2 separate regions of the Homo sapiens genome follow, and region 1 is linked to region 2. Evidence: fine-mapped expression QTL. Tissue or cell type: sigmoid colon. Region 2 holds a variant in brackets; the other region holds the start of a gene. All regions are shown on one strand. Distances are between the middles of the regions.

Region 1 (5,103 bases), 40 kb before region 2:
TTGTGTGAACAATTTCTAGGGCTCCTCCCCTTGCAAATGAGGGGCCCTGTGGTAGCCACTGAGTGCTAAGAAGCGAGATGTTCTTCCTACCAACCGTCGGCTTTAGACTGGGCCACCTCGTGGCTGCCCAGGTTGGAGAAGGGTTGTGAAGCATGGGGTTTGTAGTCAGAAGATATGGGTTGGATCCTGGACAAAACGTGGGCTGTAAAGCACTGTACAGGCATCAGTTACTCTTACTGGCCAAATGAGCACTTGTTAAGTGCATCTGGCATTTGAGGCCAGTGCTGGTACCAAGTGCTCCGCTAAATGCTGGAACGACTGAGAAAGAGCCACCACTCTGCCTCGCATGCTTCTCTGGGACACACAGACCTGGGGGCCTGAGCCCTAGGTGGGAAAGCACTCAGAGGTAATTTCTCCTTCTGGGAGGGCTGCACAGCCCCCAGCCCAGGGCAATGAACAAACAGGGGGAGCCCAGGAAGGGGAGTCCTGTCCAGGGCACAGTCTTCGAGTCCCCAGGACACCATCACCTGCCACGGCACAGAACCGCAGGCTGTGAGAGTTGATTCCAGGGGTGTATTTTATAGCTTACTGATGAGCTGTCCTCTCCTGTCTCAGGATCTGACCTGTGCCCTGGCTGGCTCGAAGGCTCCATCTTTTGGGAGGAGACTGAAAACTGCTTCAGAAAGATGCCAAGAGAAAGAACAAGATCATTTTCACCTTCTGACATGAAAAACAGGATGACGCAGCCAGGTGCCAGGCTTGCAGGCCAGGCTGTGGTCTGGAGACAGGATCTTTCCACTTCCGTCTTTCCTCCTCCCTCACCTCTTTAAGTCCAGGACTGACTCTGCAGGGACCTCCTGTCTTGCACCCCCTCCATGCAAGCCCCGAGCCTCGAGGCTGGATGCTGGGTGGTAGGAAAGGGCTGTGATTTGTGGAAAGTGCAGGAAACATCTGCCTTGTTCTGGACCCAGGGGACTGTGGGAAGGAAAGGGGGAGGGAGGAGAGTGGAGCCAGCTGATGTGTGTCCCAGATGTTCCGTCTTTGGGCTTTTGGGCAAAGTGAGGGGGCCCTGGGAGGGACAGTCAGTGAGGTATGAGACTCTGGCTCTGGGGGACACTGCCTGGAAGGCTGCCCTCCACTGCCTGGGGCACTGTCCTATCAGCATCTGCTGGAGTGACTGCCAGTGAAGCCAGGCAGAGGCTCTTCCCTTCCCAGTGCGGCCTGGAGGAAAGCGAACAGGCCTGCCCTGGGTGCGAGGGGTGACAGGGTAAGGCGACCTCATAGCAAATGCCAGGGGTCAAGGGCTGGCCAGGGGTCAGAGGGATGGTGGGGCAGAGTCTCATGGCCCACAGCCAGCGAGATCCGGGTCGGCGATGGCGACACCGTTTACTTGCCAGACTTCAGGCACACCTGGGGAAAGGTGCACGGGGGCACCACCTTGGTGGCCAGTTGATGCCACCCAAGGACCAGCATAGGGCCAAAGATCACCCGAGGTCACCTGCCTCCTCCACAAAGATGCCGTCTTAGGCAGAGAAGGTGGTTGGGAGAAAGCTTTCATATTCAAATGAGATTCCTGTTATCCACCCATAGATAACCAGCTTAAAGCAGGGTAGGGCTAAAAGCTAATATTTTCCCCCAACCAGATAATCTGCTATAAACAAATAAATTGCATCTTCCAGCGGGGTTGCATTGTGAGATCCAGGACACAGGTGTTGTGGGGAGTTTTGACATGCAGGGAAGTGACCCCCACATGCAGCTGCAAAGTCCTTGGGGCTCCCCCAAGAAGGCGGGCCAGACACTTGGCAGGGACGAGGTGGGAGGCAGCTCACGGCTCGGGAATCTCCAGGGCATGGGCTCGCACAGGTGGGAAGCACCTGTGGGCGGCTCTCAAGCCCCCATCTCATTGGTGCCCACGGTGGGCGTCTCCCCACCTTCCAGCTCGGGCTCCTCGCGAAGCGCCTGTTGGAGCACAGTCCCCAGGGACCTGGTGGGCAGCCTGTGGCTCCTCCGGCTGCCCACCAGGAAGTAGATGACGGGGTTGGCGCTGCTGCTTACGGACGAGGAGAGGCGTGACAAGCTGAAGCACAGGACCTGCATCTCGGGCGGCAGGCTCAACCAGTAGAGCACAAACCAGTAGATGCTCAGAGGCAGGGAACAGATGAGGAACACCAGGACAGAGGCCAGGACCACCACGAACAGCCGTGTGGGCTGCCGCCGCCACTGCTGGGAGCTCCTCCGCACCCAGACAAAGAGGGTCAGGCTGGACAGAGTCATCACTGGGGTTAAGACCCCCATGATGAGGGCGGCCTGGACCATGTCCACCCTGAAGCACCGATCTTCATTGAATTTCAAGAACTTGCTGCAGAAGGAAGAGGTCAACCCGTTCATCAGGAGACAGAGTGTCCACAGCAGGCCACACACCCAGGCTGACAGGTGCCTGGGCCGGTGACACTTGAACCAGATAGGGAAGAGGACAGAGAGACAGCGCTGGGTGCTGATGGCCGTCAGCAGGCTCAGGCCCACTGTGTAGGCAAAGTACATCAGTCTCTTCATCAGCTCGTGGACCTTGTCAGTGGTATTGACCAGGGGCTGGGTTTCCAGGCTGAGCGTGGAAGCCATGCTGAAGAGGAAGAGGAGGTCGGCTGCCGCCAGGTTGAGGATATAGATGCAGAAGGGGTTCCTGTGCATTCGAAAGCCCAGCAGCCAGATCACCATGCTGTTGCCTGCCATCCCGCACAGGCAGGTGAACATGGCCAGGGAGCTCAGCACCAGGTAGGCCGTGTGCACTGTGCTCCCTCTGGAATAGTTTAGGGCTGACTCCACGGTCCCACTGCTATTCAAAGTCTGGTTCATCCCTACGAGAGGAAGATGTACCAATGTGAAATTCTGTGTTGCTGGGACCACGGGGGACCCCTGGGTGCCCCTCGAATTTCCAGCTTCAGAGCTCTCCCCTCCAGGTTCTTTATGTAACAGACCATGACCGGGAGGCTTAACCTTCCCCCACTCCTGTGACTCACTCAGCCCAGATCTGCCTCCAGGGTCACCTTTATAGCTACAAAGCTGTTATAAATACCCTTTATCAGGTTAAAAAATTCTCTTCTATCTTGCTTTGAATTATTTTTTAAATCATGGAGAGGTATTGAATTTTATCAAATGCTTTTTCTACATCTATTATAGAAAAATCATTATTATCAATAGATGTAGAAAAACTATTTGATAGAAACATTTGAAATCATTTTTTTTTTCTCCTGTAATTGTCAAACCCTGTGAGTTAATTAAAAAAACAATAGACCTTAGGGCTGGGCGTGGTGGTGCATGCCTGTAACCCCAGCACTTTGGGGTTTGCTTGAGGCCAGGAGTTTGAGACCAGCCTGGGCCACATAGCAAGATCTCATCTCTACAATTTTTTTTTTTAATTAGCCAGGCATGGTGGCACACACCTGTGGTCCCACCTACTTGAGAGGCCAAGGCGGGAGGATCGCTTGAGCCTGGCACATTGAGGTTGTAGTGAGCCATGGTCCCGCCACTGCACCCCAGCCTGGAAGACAGAGCGAGATGCTGTCTCTTAAAAAAAAAAAAAAATTAGACCTCAGGGCAAAGTGTAGAATTAACTACACTCCTTAGTTTAAGACACACCATGAGCATCAGCCCATTAAAAACCCTCCATTTATTCAAGTTTCCTTCCCCATCCCATCTTAGCTGCCTTTTTCCTCCTGCCGCTTGCATCCATCCAACCTGTTTCACGCAAATCCTTGGACACCTCAATATCTTTCAAGATGGAGTGGTTGCCCATTGTGTTTTAAATTTACGTAAATGTTGTGATTTAGAATTAATGATGGGTTTTTTATTTTTCACTTGACAATATGTTTGTAGGATATATCCAGGTGGCTGTATGCAAAAGTTGTGGTTTAAAATGTCATCATGCACATTGATCTGTTATCCATTCCTTACTGTGGATCCTCAGCTTGCTTCAAAATTCCCATTATCACCAAAACACTGTGTTGGACATCCTCATGCATGTACCCATTGGACTTGACTCAATATTTTTCTGGGATACATTCTTGGAGGAGGATTGCTCGGTCATAGAACATATGCACATTTAGTCTCACTAAATATTGCCTGGTAATTCTTTTTCTGAGTGGCTGCTTCAGGTTTCACCTGTACCAGCAGAATAGGAATGTTTACGTTTTCCCATTCTCTCACCAACACTTGGTGTTATTTGTTTTTCTAACTTTTGCCAACCTGATGGTTGCAAAGTGATATACTGTAGATGTTTTAACTTGCATTTCTGTGATTACAGTGAGTTTGAGCATCAATTCATATATCTGTTAGCCATTTGGAGTTCCCCTTCTTCAAATTGTCTGTTCACACCTGTTGTCCATTTTTCAATTGGGTTTCTTTTCTTTTCCTTTCTGATTTGCAAGAGTTGCTTGTATTTCTAGGTATTAATGCCTTCCTGGATTTAGACATTGCAGATACTTTTCTCTGAGAACGCTCTGTTTTTTATGGCAACTTTATCTATTGTGAACTTTGGTTGGAAGACATCCTAAATTTTGGTATAGCCAACTCTTCAGAATTTTTTTCTCTGAAATTTTGTGTCTTCTAAATCTGAAAGTATTCTGTCTCCCTGGATAAAAAATGTAGTCTTTTCTATTTTCTTCTATTACTTTTATAGTTTTTCCCATTCAGATTTTGTTCTTGGATCCAACTGGAATCTATTTTTTATGAGCTTGATTTTTCCTCCATAGTATGGATCAGCTTTCCTAACACTGTCTCCTAAACAGTCTGTCCTTTCCCTATTGACTTATTAAGTTCTCATTTACACATGGGACTGGGTTTTTAATTTCATTCTTCATTCTGTGTCATTGGTTTGTCTCTCAGTTCCTACAACATTAACACAGTGTTTTGTTTTGTTTTTTTTTTTAAATATGTCTTTCTGCTATGTCATTTTATTTTATGAGATGCATGTCCCTTCTTTAACTTTGTTTGCCAAAATTGAATTAGCCATTTGTGAATCTTTATTCTTCCTTAAAATTTTAGAGCAAATTTTTGGAATTCCTAAAAGAAAGAAACTCTCAAGTTTTCAGTAGAAGCTCATAGAAC
Region 2 (5,205 bases):
GGTGTCTCACTCTGTTGCCCAGGCTGGATTGCAGTGGCAAGATCTTGGCTCATTGTGTCTCCCGGGTTCAAGCGATTCTTCTGCCTCAGACTCTTGAGTAGCTGGGACTACAGGCAGTGCCACCACGCCTGGCTAATATTTGTATTTTTAGTGGAGACGGGGTTTCACCATGTTGGTGAGGCTGGTCTCAAACTCTTGACCTCATGTGATCCCCCGACCTCGGCCTCTCAAAGTGCTGGGATTACAGGTGTGAGACACCGTGCCCTGCCTGATGTGCTCCTTTTAATGACAGGTTCCCCGCAGCATCTCCCTGTCCCTCTTCCTCAGTCTCTCTCCTTCCTGCCCTCCTCCTCCCCCGGCCCTGACTTGGGTCAAGAAACAGACACATCACACTATCAGGGAAATAGGGGTTCACACGTGGCGTGGGCAGGTCTGAGGCGTGCGAGTCTGGAAAGCTGTAGTCAGAGAATCAGAGGAACGCTCACTGGGACTTTGGCCAGCCCCTGTGTGGGTACTGGAGCTGGAAGAGCTTGGGAAGCTGCCCCGTGTGGCCGCCACAAGCCTGAAGGAAGAGCTCGTGGGGAGGTCTGTGAAGCCACTGCATCTGGGCGCCATGGCCTCCTGGGAATCACGGGTCCCAACTGACTCACCTTCCAAACCTCACCACGAGCCCTTCTCATTGAGAAACTCTGACCCAGCATCTGTCATGGAAGGGACTCGGGGAACAGTTTCCAGCCATAGGAGGAGGTCATGGGACTGAGAGGCCGTCCAGGTCCAGCACACTCCAACTGTCAATTTGCCATGCGGATACTCTTTTAACGAGACTTAACCTTTTAGTGGGGAGGTGCAAGGAGTTTATTTTAGGGGGTGACCCCAAGAAACATTACAGGGAAGGAAAAGAGTTCTGAGAATTCTCTCCCACTTTGCTTTGAGGGGTCCTGTCTTCAGCTTACCACTGCCCTTGCCTTCTCTGTGGATTATTATGGCAACAGACACTTGCAAACCCTAGGTAGGTCCTCAGCGAGGGTGGCTTGAGCAGCCAGAGACAGGCTGAGAGCAGCTGCCAGGATGGCTGTCGGACCCTCAGGGGCCTGGCGGGAAGCTCACTCCTGCTTTGGGGCAGCAAGAGAGAGGGAAACAGGAGTTGAAGTTGCACTGAACACTGAGGTCACGTGCGGGCTTTCCTTCTGGGCCTGCCACTGGTACGCAAACAAAACTCAAATATGTCTTCAAACCCAATCAAACTTCGTCACAGTTTCCCCTGAGACTGGTGCAAAACTAGTACAAAACTCTTGCTTTCTCAAGTCTGAGAGATCTGGGGTCTTCTGTTTGGGAGAGACCATGTTTCCTATAAACTTTTTATCAGAAGCAGCTATTTCCAGACAAAACTTCTGAATGTTCAGCCTCGAACGCATCTCTTGAATCTGGAATTTCCCCAAGGCTTGATTCCATGGGATGGCTGAACAGATAACACTGACTGGGGGATGGGTGTAGGTGTGTTGGTGTGTATATTTCAAGTCACTTTTGCTTCTTTAAAAATATTTAATTCCAGGAACATTTTTTAAAATTGTGATAAATTGTGCATAGTATGAAATTTATCTTTAGCAATTTATATATTTTTTTGTTTAGCTAGAGTCTAGTTCTGTTGCCCAGGCTGGAGTGCAGTGGCACGATCTCGGCTCACTGCAACTTCCGCCTCCCGGGTTCCAGTGTTTCTCCTGCCTCAGTCTCCTGTGGAGCCGGGATTACAGGCACGCACCACCGCACCCAGCTAATTTTTGTATTTTTAGTAGAGACAGGGGGTTTCACCATGTTGGCCAGGCTGGTCTCAAACTCCTGACCTCAGGTGATCCACCTGCCTCGGCCTCCCAAAGTGCTGGGATTACTGCGCCCGTCCCCATTTGTCCCTTGATCCATATCTGGGTCATGTCCATCTCTGTCCTTCCTAAGCCACACCTGCCTTGCACATTCTGTAACTTCAATGCTAGGTATAGGGCTGACAGCTATGAACACACATCAGATAGACTAGGAATGGGAGGGAGGGAAAGGAAAAAGAACTCAGTAATATATACCATGTACGCATACCGAAGCAGGGGTGAGAGCACAAGCAACCACCGCAAACCTTGTTCCCGTGATAAGGAACAGATAAGGCCTCTTTTCCCCAGCACGTTCCACGCTGCCTTTGCCCACCCGCCATTTCAGCTTGTCACTGTTCTTGGCCTGGTGGGGCGATCCAGGCCTTCATTTTTTTTTTTTTTTTTTTTGAGATGGAGTCTCACTCTGTCATACAGGCTGGAGTGCAGCGGCATGACCTTGGGTCACTGCAAGCTCCGCCTCCCAGGTTCAAGCGATTCTCCTGCCTTAGACTCCCGAGTAG[C/T]TGGAACTACAGGCATGTGCCACCACACCTGGCTGATTTTTTGTATTTTTAGTAGAGTAGGGTTTCACCGTGTTAGCCAGGATGCAGGCCTTCATTCTCGAAGGATCTGTGCCCTGGGTGGGGCTACCTCTTTTGCATTGCTGTAGTTTCCTGTGACTTTTTACCATGGGACACCAGAGTGCTATGGGATATGTCAGAGAATCTCCTGGATTCTAGGCATGGGTCTCCCATTTCCATCATAGCAACCCATGAGGGCCAGCCACCTCAGCCGGTGCCGTGACCCCCTCTGTGCTGGTGGGCTCAGGGGTTGATGGTTCAGAGCCTACACTTCATCCTGTGGTCCCACAACATGTCATCGTCTGCCATGAAAAGGTCATTCCTGTGTCCAAAAACTGCTCCTTGCTTAGGATGATGGGGAACTTGGCAAGACAGAGAATTCAGTGGGTACAAGCCAACGGGTCCATTGCATTTGTGAAAACTAAGCTTCTTGATCAGAAGCAATGCGTGGGGAATACACTAATGATCTGTAAGGTCCCATACGCCCATGGATGGTGGTTCTGGCAGAAGCACTGTAGGCAAGGAAGACAAATCCATATTCAAAACAAGTGATTGGACGGGTGCGGTGGCTCACGCCTGTAATCCCAGCACTTCGGAAGGCCAAGGCAGGCAGATCACAATGTCAGGAGTTTGAGACCAGCCTGACCAACATGATGAAACCCCGTCTCTACTAAAAATACAAAAAAGATTAGCCGGGCATGGTGGTGCGCTCCTGTAATCCCAGCTACCAGCCTGAGCGACAGAGCAAGACTTTGTCTCAAAAACAAAACAAAACAAAACAAAAAACCAAGTGATTATTCCAGGAAAAACAAATCTCTGCCCTTTCCAAGTGGAATCAGTCCAAGGAAATCAACCTGCCACGCACGAGGTGGCTGGCTGTCCCCTGGGAAATGATGTCCCATCATGGGCCTGTAGGATCTCAACAGTGATTGTAGATGGTCAGCCTTGGCCAGGGGAAGCTCACATGGCTGAGCTCATGGGAAACCAGGTGGCCAGAGAAACAGGCTGAGTGTCATCCTCGGAATAGGTCATCCGGTCCACCTGTTTAGTGAGAGCCGTCTCTGGGAGGCTGACCGTTGGCCAGTATTTACATGGGACACAAAGAGCTATCTGCCCCCCTTATGCCCATTAAAAGGGATTCGCCTTCATGCCTCTTCCCGAGACCTTGGATTAATTGTCCAATAGTGTTCCTTCCAAGCTCCGGAGCAGTCGTTAGATCCTGCCCATGAATCAGTGTAGACTCACATCTCTGACCATCTCTCCTTCTGTGTAATGTGAACAACCAGGTGCACTGTTTGCAAGTCTGTCCCCGGACACTTCAGGGCCACCCTTACTGGGGCAGTAGAGCTCCAGCTGCCCACTTTCAGGCGATGCCAGCGAGCCATACATAAAACAGACCTGGAGTTTTTTCTTTCTTGGTCAGCTGGTCATAAGGGACTCCCATGAGATCATTCATGTGGAGGCGGGGAGGAGCTCTGCAGTGAAGGGGGTGCACGGGAGTCTGGGCCATCTGCTTGTGCAACGGACTTCAGGAGCTGCTCAAGTCTGAGCTCACGTGGCCCACTTCTACCTGATCACGGTGCTACAGCACACATTACCTGTATCATGTGTTGGATTGGTTACCGTCTAGTTTCGGGTGGGCAGCTCAGATCCTGTGGGAAAATGTGACACATTTAGTCCAACAGCAAGCCAGAAGCTGTTTTTCTTTTTCTTTCTTTCTTTCTTTTTTTTTTTTTTGAGACAGTGTCTCACTCTGTCTCCCAGGCTGGAGTGCAGTGGCAGGATCTTGGCTCACTGCAACCTCTGCCTCCCGGGTTCAAGCGATTCTCCTGCCTCAGCCTCCTGAGTAACTGGGATTACAAGCGCCTACCACCACGCCCGGCTAATTTTTGTATTTTTAGTAGAGATGGGGTTTCACCATATTGGCCAGGCTGGTCTTGAACTTCTGACCTTGTGATCTGCCCACCTTGGCCTTCCAAAGTGCTGGGATTACAGGCGTGAGCCACCGCACCTGGACTTTTCTCTTCTCTTCTCTTCTTTTCTTTTTTTGAGACAGAGTTTCACTCTTGTCACCCAGGCTGGAGTGCAATGGTGCCATCTCGGCTCACTGCAATCTCCGCCTCCCGGGTTCATAGCAATTCTCCTGCCACAGCCTCCTCAGTAGCTGGGATTACAGGCACCTGCCATTATGCCCGGCTAATTTTTATATATTAGTAGAGACAGGGTTTCACCATGTTGGCCAGGCTGGTCTTGAATGCCTGACCTCAGGTGATCCGCCTTGGCCTTGGCCTCCCAAAGTGCTGGGATTACAGGTGTGAGCCACCGCGCCCAGCCCAGAAGCTGTTTTTCAAAAGGAGAATAGTTATCTTCAGAAGAGGACATGTCTTTGCTCTAAAATCCCAGTGGTCTCTTCTGTGACACCTGTTGGAGCCTGCCAGAGGCCTCATACAGAATCCCTACTTGCCCCGGACACCTCAAGATCCACTGGATCTGTTGGGTCTGTTGGGCTCAATAGCATGACAGCTTGAAAGCAGCCTGGATGTATTGCAGAGGCTTCTCTCATTCTGGGTCCTGAAACTGGCAGCAGCCTTGCAGGTTACCAGTGAGTCGGTCGGAAGAGCACACCTGAATGAGGTGTAAGCTGCACCAAAACCCAGAGCCCCACCAAAGGTCATGCCACTTTCTTAACAGGAGGGGGTGCCTGGTGCAGCAACTGGTCTTCCTCTTCAAGGGGCTATCTCAACACGCCCCCCACCATTGTACCCCTAGAA

What was found. PIP is the estimated chance that this variant, and not a neighbour inherited with it, causes the effect.
Region 1: MRGPRD starts here. The variant in region 2 is fine-mapped to the expression of MRGPRD in sigmoid colon (GTEx, PIP 0.95).

What each region holds. Positions count from the first base shown.
Region 1 is chr11:68,978,134-68,983,236 of GRCh38, forward strand. MRGPRD (MAS related GPR family member D) reads right to left here and starts at 2,853. Exons shown (of 1, transcript NM_198923.2): 1 at 1,888-2,853. The coding sequence starts at 2,853. The coding sequence ends at 1,888. RefSeq lists an enhancer at 1,833-2,342.
Region 2 is chr11:69,018,545-69,023,749 of GRCh38, forward strand. No RefSeq gene overlaps it. Among named protein-coding and RNA genes, the nearest start is that of MRGPRF, 7.9 kb to the left of the region's middle. The variant C/T (reference allele first, on the strand shown) is at 2,378.